Homo sapiens: one gene and its partner. The protein of the gene in region 1 purifies or fractionates together with the protein of each later gene. This does not show direct contact. Each region holds a gene or a part of one and is shown on either strand. Other genes may lie near its edges.

Evidence for each region.
Region 2: the proteins of MIPEP (region 1) and INA purify together in Homo sapiens (affinity purification with mass spectrometry; 2 studies listed by BioGRID and IntAct, with this or other methods). This does not show direct contact.

The regions. Positions count from the first base shown.
Region 1 is NC_000013.11:23,882,542-23,886,458, reverse strand, and holds part of MIPEP (mitochondrial intermediate peptidase), read left to right. Parts: coding exon 1-126; intron 127-3,917. UniProt on the Homo sapiens protein: Cleaves proteins, imported into the mitochondrion, to their mature size.
Region 2 is NC_000010.11:103,275,022-103,278,938, forward strand, and holds the start of INA (alpha-internexin), read left to right. Parts: upstream 1-2,116; 5' UTR 2,117-2,190; coding exon 2,191-3,255; intron 3,256-3,917. UniProt on the Homo sapiens protein: Class-IV neuronal intermediate filament that is able to self-assemble. It is involved in the morphogenesis of neurons.

The DNA of each region.
Region 1 (3,917 bases):
GCACAAGAAAAAGCCTTGAGAAAGACAGAATTGCTTGTGGACCGTGCATGTTCCACCCCACCTGGGCCCCAGACCGTGCTGATCTTCGATGAGCTCTCGGATTCCTTATGCAGAGTGGCCGACTTGGTAAGGTGCTTTACCTCAGACTTGAAGCTACCTCTCTTTCAACTTGTTAAAATTTAAGTGAAATTTATCCTTTGTTGTTTACTATTAATATTAGATTATAAAGTTAAAAATGTCTGAAACTGAGATCCATTGGGTATAATTTTTTATGATGAAATATGTCATTAGGAATGGGAAAATATTATAGGAAAAGGTGATATTTAGAACTTGTACTTTAATACGTATGTTTAATAAAATATACATGTAATATATAATGAATGAATACTAATATAGCAAATATTTGCTATATTTGGGTAATATATATTTACATATATATTCATTTGACAGAGATTCTTCATTTATGAAAGTGTCTCCCAAAATTCTAAGAACACTTTATGTGTACATTTACAACAAAATTCCCCTTTTTCTTTTTTTTTTTTTTTTAATAGAGACAGGGTCTCCCTGTGTTGCCCGGGCTGATCTTGAACTCCTAGCCCCAAGTGAACCTCCTGCCTCGGCCTCCCAAAGTGCTGGGATTATAAGTGTGAGCCACTTCTTTTTCATAAGAGGTGTGAAAACCAGTTTTAATAAACCTTTTCAGGAATGCTTTTTTTTTTTTAATTAAAAACCAAGTTTTGACATCAAAATGATTGTAAAGACTTTTTTTTTTTAACATTTTAAATTTGAAATAGAAGTGTATACCTAGATCTCTTCAGCAACTAGGAAATCCATTGCTGAGATAGCAAAATTTTCTTTTTTTTTTATTTTTAATTTTTGTGGGTACATGTATATATTCATGAGGTACATGAGATGTTTTGATAGAGGCATGCAATGCATAGTAATTACATCAGGGAAAATGGGGTATCCATCCCCTCAAGCATTTATCCTTTCTGTTACAAACAATCCAATTATACTCTTCTGGTTATTTTAAAATCTACAATTAAATTATTATTGACTGTAGTCACCCTGTTGTGCTATCGAATAGTAGGTCTTACTCAATCTTCCTGTTTTTTTGTAGCCATTAACCATCCCCACCTCCCCCATGCCACCCTGCTACCCTACCTAGCCTCTGGTAACCATCCTTCTACTCTTTATTTCCATGATTCAGTTGTATCTATTTTTAGGTCCCACAAGTGAGTGAGAACATGTGATGTTTGTCTTTCTGTGCCTGACTTATTTCACTAAACATAATGACCATCCATGTTGTTGAAAATGACATAATCTCATTCTTTTTTATGGCTGAATAGCATTCCATTGTGTGTAAGTACCATACTTTCTTTATCCATTCATCTGTTCATGGACAGTTGGGTTGCTTTCTCATCTTGGATGTTGTGAACAGAGCTGCAGCAAACATGGAAGTGCAGATATCTCTTCGATATACTCATTTCCAGGAAGCAGGGTTTCCTATCAGCTTGAAGGAGCTGACTCTTGGTTACTCTTGTCAAGGAAAGCAGCACACACAATTTAAATAGTGATCATTTATGATCCTGTCTACATGGTATAGAACTGCATAGGTTTTTCCCTCACATTCAGTCAATGTTGAGCACGTACTGTGTGCCAGACACTGTCTAGGCATGAGGGATACATGCAGGAATGAAACAGACACAATCTGTTACTTCATGGAGTTTATATTCTGGCATTAACTTGTTTTTGGAAATTTAACTAGACTGTAGGCCCTTTCTACAGCCTAGTTAGCTGAAGAAGCTTTCCCTGGATGAGCTGAGGTAACCTTCTCAGCATATCTCCATTTTCACAAGAGGGAAGAAAGGCACTGGGTGATGAAGGGATGTGCCCGCTGTCAGCTGGCCAGCGTGTGGTGCAGCTGGGCTGCCAGCCCAGGCAGGGTATCTGTCGAGCTCTTCTTCTTTCTCCTGTTCCAACCATTTCAGGGCTGGCTGGCTGCTCAGGTCTCATGAATCCTTACCTGGAAAGGTTGCAAAGTTTGTTAGCCTCTCCATCTTTAAAAAAAATGTATACTTGTTTTTAAAATTATTATTCTGTAAAATTGACTTCTTTTGGAGGATGGTACAGTTCTATGAATTTTAACTCGTATAAATTTGTGCAGCCCTCACCACAATCAGGATACAAAGCTGTTCCATCCACCCCCAAAAATCTCCCTGTAGTCACACCCCCCCCTCCCCACTAACCTCTGGCAACCACTAATCTGTTCTCTCTCCCTATAGTTTTGCCTTTTCTAGAATGTCACATAGGTGGAATCCTGTATACCTTTGACTGACTTCTTTCACCCAGCATAACTCATCCCCATCTTTATTTTTTTTCCTTTTTTGGAAAATTTCCTTCCACCCATACAACTGATTTGAGCATTAACACCTTTCAGATGATTATATGTTCACCACAAGCCTCCCGCTCTTAAGAAAACTGATAAAGTATCTTACTGTAAAGGGTTTTTCCCTGGAGTGAAGTTGCAGGCTCTGAGTAGTTCTGTTGTACTGGGTTTTTGTTCTGTGCCTCCAGTATGTGCATAGGAAATGTGTCTTTGAATGATGGGGAAGCTGTGGAAACGCACTGCCAAAAGGAGGTTTCATACCCTGTTCACCTAATTGTGTCACAGAAATCAGAAAAGGAAAATCTGTGTCAGTGAATTTCACTGTATCGTCAACCCTCCAGATTGGGGGATCTGTGGAGTCAACCAACCTTGGATCAAAAATATTTGGAAAAAAAATTTGCATTCATACTGAACATGTACAGACTTTCTTTTCTTGTCACTGTTCCATAAAACAATACAGTGTATCAGCTATTTACATATTGTTTACATTCATTAGGTATTACAAGTAATCTAGATATGATTTGATGTATGGGGTGTGCTGTGTGTCGGTTATATGCAAGTACTACACCATTTTATATCAGAGACTTGAGCATCTGTGGATTCGGGTATCTGTGGGAGGATCAAACCATTGTCCATTGATACTGAGGGGTGACTTGGCGTGGCTGTCACAAATCCCAGAATTCACTGTGTATTTGTTGTCTTAGTCTTCATCTTAATCAGTATTCTAGGATTTTTTTCTACATTTTTGCTTTTGATCTTCACTAAAAGATTTTAACTTCTCTGCGCTATATCTTATTTTGACATTTTTAGTATTTATCATGTATAATAATATCTCATTTTGAAAACTTAAAAAAAAAAGATGTGATTTGTATATGTAGTTCTCTGGGTATAAAAGAACCTTTCTCTGTTCTGAATTTTTAAGATATTACCTGCCAGTAAGATTATCTGAATTTTTAATATCTTAAAAATATCTGAATTTTTAAGATATTACCTGCCAGTGAGATTAGTACTGTTATAAGGCAATCGTTTTATAAACTGTTTTTCACCAAATAGTCATTTTATTTTGTTTTCTTTTTTAATACAGTTTTTATGTAACAACTGTTTTCCTCATCACTATTACAAATCAGTTTTTAATATGTATGCTAGTGTTTTGAATTTTAATATTGATTATAAATTCACAACCCGTAGATTAGTAATTTGTAAAAAAAAAATGTTGTAAATTTACATAACTCATTTTTCAGGTACTTTGGTACTAATGTTATTTTATCGTTACCAATTGTTACAACAAATATACCAAACTATGGATTTAAATGTTTTGGCATTAAAAACTATTTGATAATAAAATTAAGAAATTTTATCTTGTGGTGATTTTATTTCATGTTATAGTCACATTTTCTTGGCAAATAAAATATGTAGTGTTTTGTAGTTTCTCTGCTTTTTGTTACAGTTGACATGAAAACAAAAATTTAGTTTTACATCATTTTATCTTTTTAAAAAAGAACTGTCACTCATTTTAATGTCTAATGAC
Region 2 (3,917 bases), on another chromosome or scaffold:
AGCCTCCTGAGGAGCTGGGATTACAGGCCCGTGCCACCACACCCGGCTCATTTTTATATTTTTAATAGAGACAGGGTTTCACCATGTTGGTCAGGCTGGTCTCAAACTCCTCACCTCAAGTGATCCGCCCATCTCGGCCTCCCAAAGTGCTGGGATTACAGGTGTGAGCCACTGCACCCGGCCAACTCCGTCTCAGAAAAAAAAAAAAAAAAAAAAGAGTCTCACTGCACTAAGCAGAATTATGTAGTGAAGAGAGAATGTATGCTTGTCTTTGCTTGCTGGTGACCTTGTGCTGCACCCGCACCTCGGTGCCTTATCTATAAGATGGAGGTGAGGGCCACCTTGAAGCATGGTTCAGAGGTAAACCTATGCAAAAGTGCCAGCACAAGTACTGGCAGACAATCATTACTCAGCAGTGTTAGCAATCTTTTATTGTTCACCTTACCAGGTCTTTCTAAGCCCAAAGACCTCAGAATTGAGTCCCTCCAACTCAAGGCTTTGGTCTGTGATGAGGAACCAGAGGGGCAGGCTGTGGCAGGGCCTGACCATCTTCCATGACATCAAGCACAAAGCCAAGAGATATGCTCCAAAGTCCCATAAGATCCCTTTTCACCCTTCCTTTAGTGGCCTGTCCCAAGCATATTCCCCTTTCCCCATGAAGTAAAACTTATCCTAGAACTACGTCCTTGAAGATTCCAATATCAATAAAAGGCCCTCAGTCTGGAATTCTGGGATATAACTAAAAAGGTCTTCCTACTCCCTCTCCAAAGCCATATCCACATCCTGAATGATATTAGAAGCTTGCAAGTGGGTACATATTACAGACGCCACACTGACCCCTCCCAGCCTTCATCTTTTCAGATTCCATTCTTTGATTCTCACCCCCTGCCCCACCAACCCTACCATGTGGCAGAAGAGGCCGGCTCAGTCACCAGCACTCTCCCCCACTCCTGGAGTTTAATCTTTTTGCAGGGATCTCTTTTCTCCAAAAAGAGATCTGCACAGGGAGTGGCTCTCTGAAGCCAGTTGAGAACCTGCCCTGCTGGATTTACACAAACTGAAATCTCAAATGCCCACAGGGTCAGAGAGGTAAAGTAAATGAATTAAGAAGGGGGGCGTAATTCAGTGGAGAATGGCAGGGACTGTAGTGAACAGGAGAGCACACTTCTTATACAAATGGCAAGGGCAACTCACCTCTGCCACTGTGGGCATCCCAGCTCTTCCCATTTTCAGAAGAAGCCAGAAATCCAATTTCTTTACAGGTGAAATCTCCTGGTTTAAAAATGCTCCTTTCGAAATATTTTAAAATATAATGCTCTAAACACAAAAGTCTGCAGCCCCCTTTCCAGCAGCTTGTGGTCCTGGCCTGTGCCATGCTTTAGTGCCCTAACGATGAGCCCCAGCAATTCCCAGCGCCTCCTGCTTCTCCAAGTCTGGCCTCTTTTCCCCTCTGTACCGCCGCTTCTCCCCACTCTCCGCAGCTCGGGGTCACTTTCTTTACTGATCTCCCCTCTCTTCTGGGAGAGGCACTTGCTGAACATCTTTCCGCCCGGAGCCTCCCCAGGAGCTGCAGAGGGGCAGCTGGAGAGATGCTTTCTGACGTAGCATCTCCCACCTTTCTCCTTGGGGACCCTGAGGAAGGGGACAAGGGCTCGCTCTGCAGGTCCTCACTGTAACTGGAAAAACACGACCTCGCCCTCGGGAAGGCTTTCTGTGCGCCTCACCTCAGGATGAGGGTGGGTGTAGGGGACACCTCCCAGAAACCCCTAACCTCCCAGTCGGTTAAAGAAGAGGGGATAGGGTCAAGGGATGCGACAGAGCTGTGTGGTTTCCGGATGGGAAACCTCAGTCGTTTAGGCACCCCTCCGCTCGAGTCACTTCCGAAGCAGTCGATTCTTGGGGAGAAGCGCTGCGGAAAGGGGCGACTCCGATGCAGATGGCCCTGTCCCGGCGCCCCAGGTCGTCGCGCGCGCAGCTGCGGTAGTCACTGCGCCTCCCCGCCCCCACTCCTGGATGCCCCCCTTCCCTCTCCCGGCCAGACTCTGAGCAGGAGCTCCGCCCCCAGCGCGCCGCCCCAGCCCCGGCGCCTTAAAAGCCGGGCGCACCGCCCCGCCGCGCCCTGCCTGCCGCACCTCTCCTTTCTTCTGTAGCTCGCGTTGAAGCCGCACGTCCGGCCCCGATCCCGGCACCATGAGCTTCGGCTCGGAGCACTACCTGTGCTCCTCCTCCTCCTACCGCAAGGTGTTCGGGGATGGCTCTCGCCTGTCCGCCCGCCTCTCTGGGGCCGGCGGCGCGGGCGGCTTCCGCTCGCAGTCGCTGTCCCGCAGCAATGTGGCCTCCTCGGCCGCCTGCTCCTCGGCCTCGTCGCTCGGCCTCGGCCTGGCCTATCGCCGGCCGCCGGCGTCCGACGGGCTGGACCTGAGCCAGGCGGCGGCGCGCACCAACGAGTACAAGATCATCCGCACCAACGAGAAGGAGCAGCTGCAGGGCCTCAACGACCGCTTCGCCGTGTTCATCGAGAAGGTGCATCAGCTGGAGACGCAGAACCGCGCGTTGGAGGCCGAGCTGGCCGCGCTGCGACAGCGCCACGCTGAGCCGTCGCGCGTCGGCGAGCTCTTCCAGCGCGAGCTGCGCGACCTGCGCGCGCAGCTGGAGGAGGCCAGCTCGGCTCGCTCGCAGGCCCTGCTGGAGCGCGACGGGCTGGCGGAGGAGGTGCAGCGGCTGCGGGCGCGCTGCGAGGAGGAGAGCCGCGGACGCGAAGGCGCCGAGCGCGCCCTGAAGGCGCAGCAGCGCGACGTGGACGGCGCCACGCTGGCCCGCCTGGACCTGGAGAAGAAGGTGGAGTCGCTGCTGGACGAGCTGGCCTTCGTACGCCAGGTGCACGACGAGGAGGTAGCCGAGCTGCTGGCCACGCTGCAGGCGTCGTCGCAGGCCGCGGCCGAGGTGGACGTGACTGTGGCTAAACCAGACCTGACCTCGGCTCTGAGGGAGATCCGCGCCCAGTATGAGTCCCTGGCCGCTAAGAACCTGCAGTCCGCGGAAGAATGGTACAAGTCCAAGTTTGCCAACCTGAACGAGCAGGCGGCGCGCAGCACCGAGGCCATCCGGGCCAGCCGCGAGGAGATCCACGAGTATCGGCGCCAGCTGCAGGCGCGCACCATCGAGATCGAGGGCCTGCGCGGGGCCAACGAGTCCTTGGAGAGGCAGATCCTGGAGCTGGAGGAGCGGCACAGTGCCGAGGTAGCTGGCTACCAGGTAAGGGCCGGGGCTGGGCGTGGGGAGGGGTGCCCTGCCCTCTTCCGCGCGTACCCTCTTCCTCTGGTAAAACTGGGCCCCAGGACTTAAGGGGAGGGCAAAAGAGAGGAGAGAAGAGCCGCGGCTGGAGGCGCTGGTTAACAAAAAACCCTGGAGTCTTTAATGTTAATTTTAGGGAACGCCCCTCATTTATGTCCCTGCCCCAGCCCTTCAAACAAAGAAGCCCTTAAATTTATTTGAGGTTCGAAAACCCAACTCTGCCTGTCTGTCAGCAAGCGGGCCTACACACACCGGCGACCCGGAGAACAGTGCCCCACCCAAAGTAAGACTGAGCCCAACGGGGCAGGTTACGTGGGCGGTGCTGTCTCGGCTATCTGGCTTGTTTGGTTGACTTTGAAAAGCTTTCTGTGCGCCCTAGAAGTTATTTATGGAGTATGGTCTGCTTCAGGGCTGAAGGAAGAATGCGATCCTGAACTGGGAAGAGTCCTATCCCATTTTCTTGACTTTCGCGCTCCAAAAAGTAGAGATTGGGAGCCAACAAGCTGAGCGATGCTTGAGCTAGTAGTAACCACCCTGCTCTACCCACCTCCCCAACACACACACACACACGATTCCCTTGTCCACCAGCACACACACACACACACACACACACACACACGATT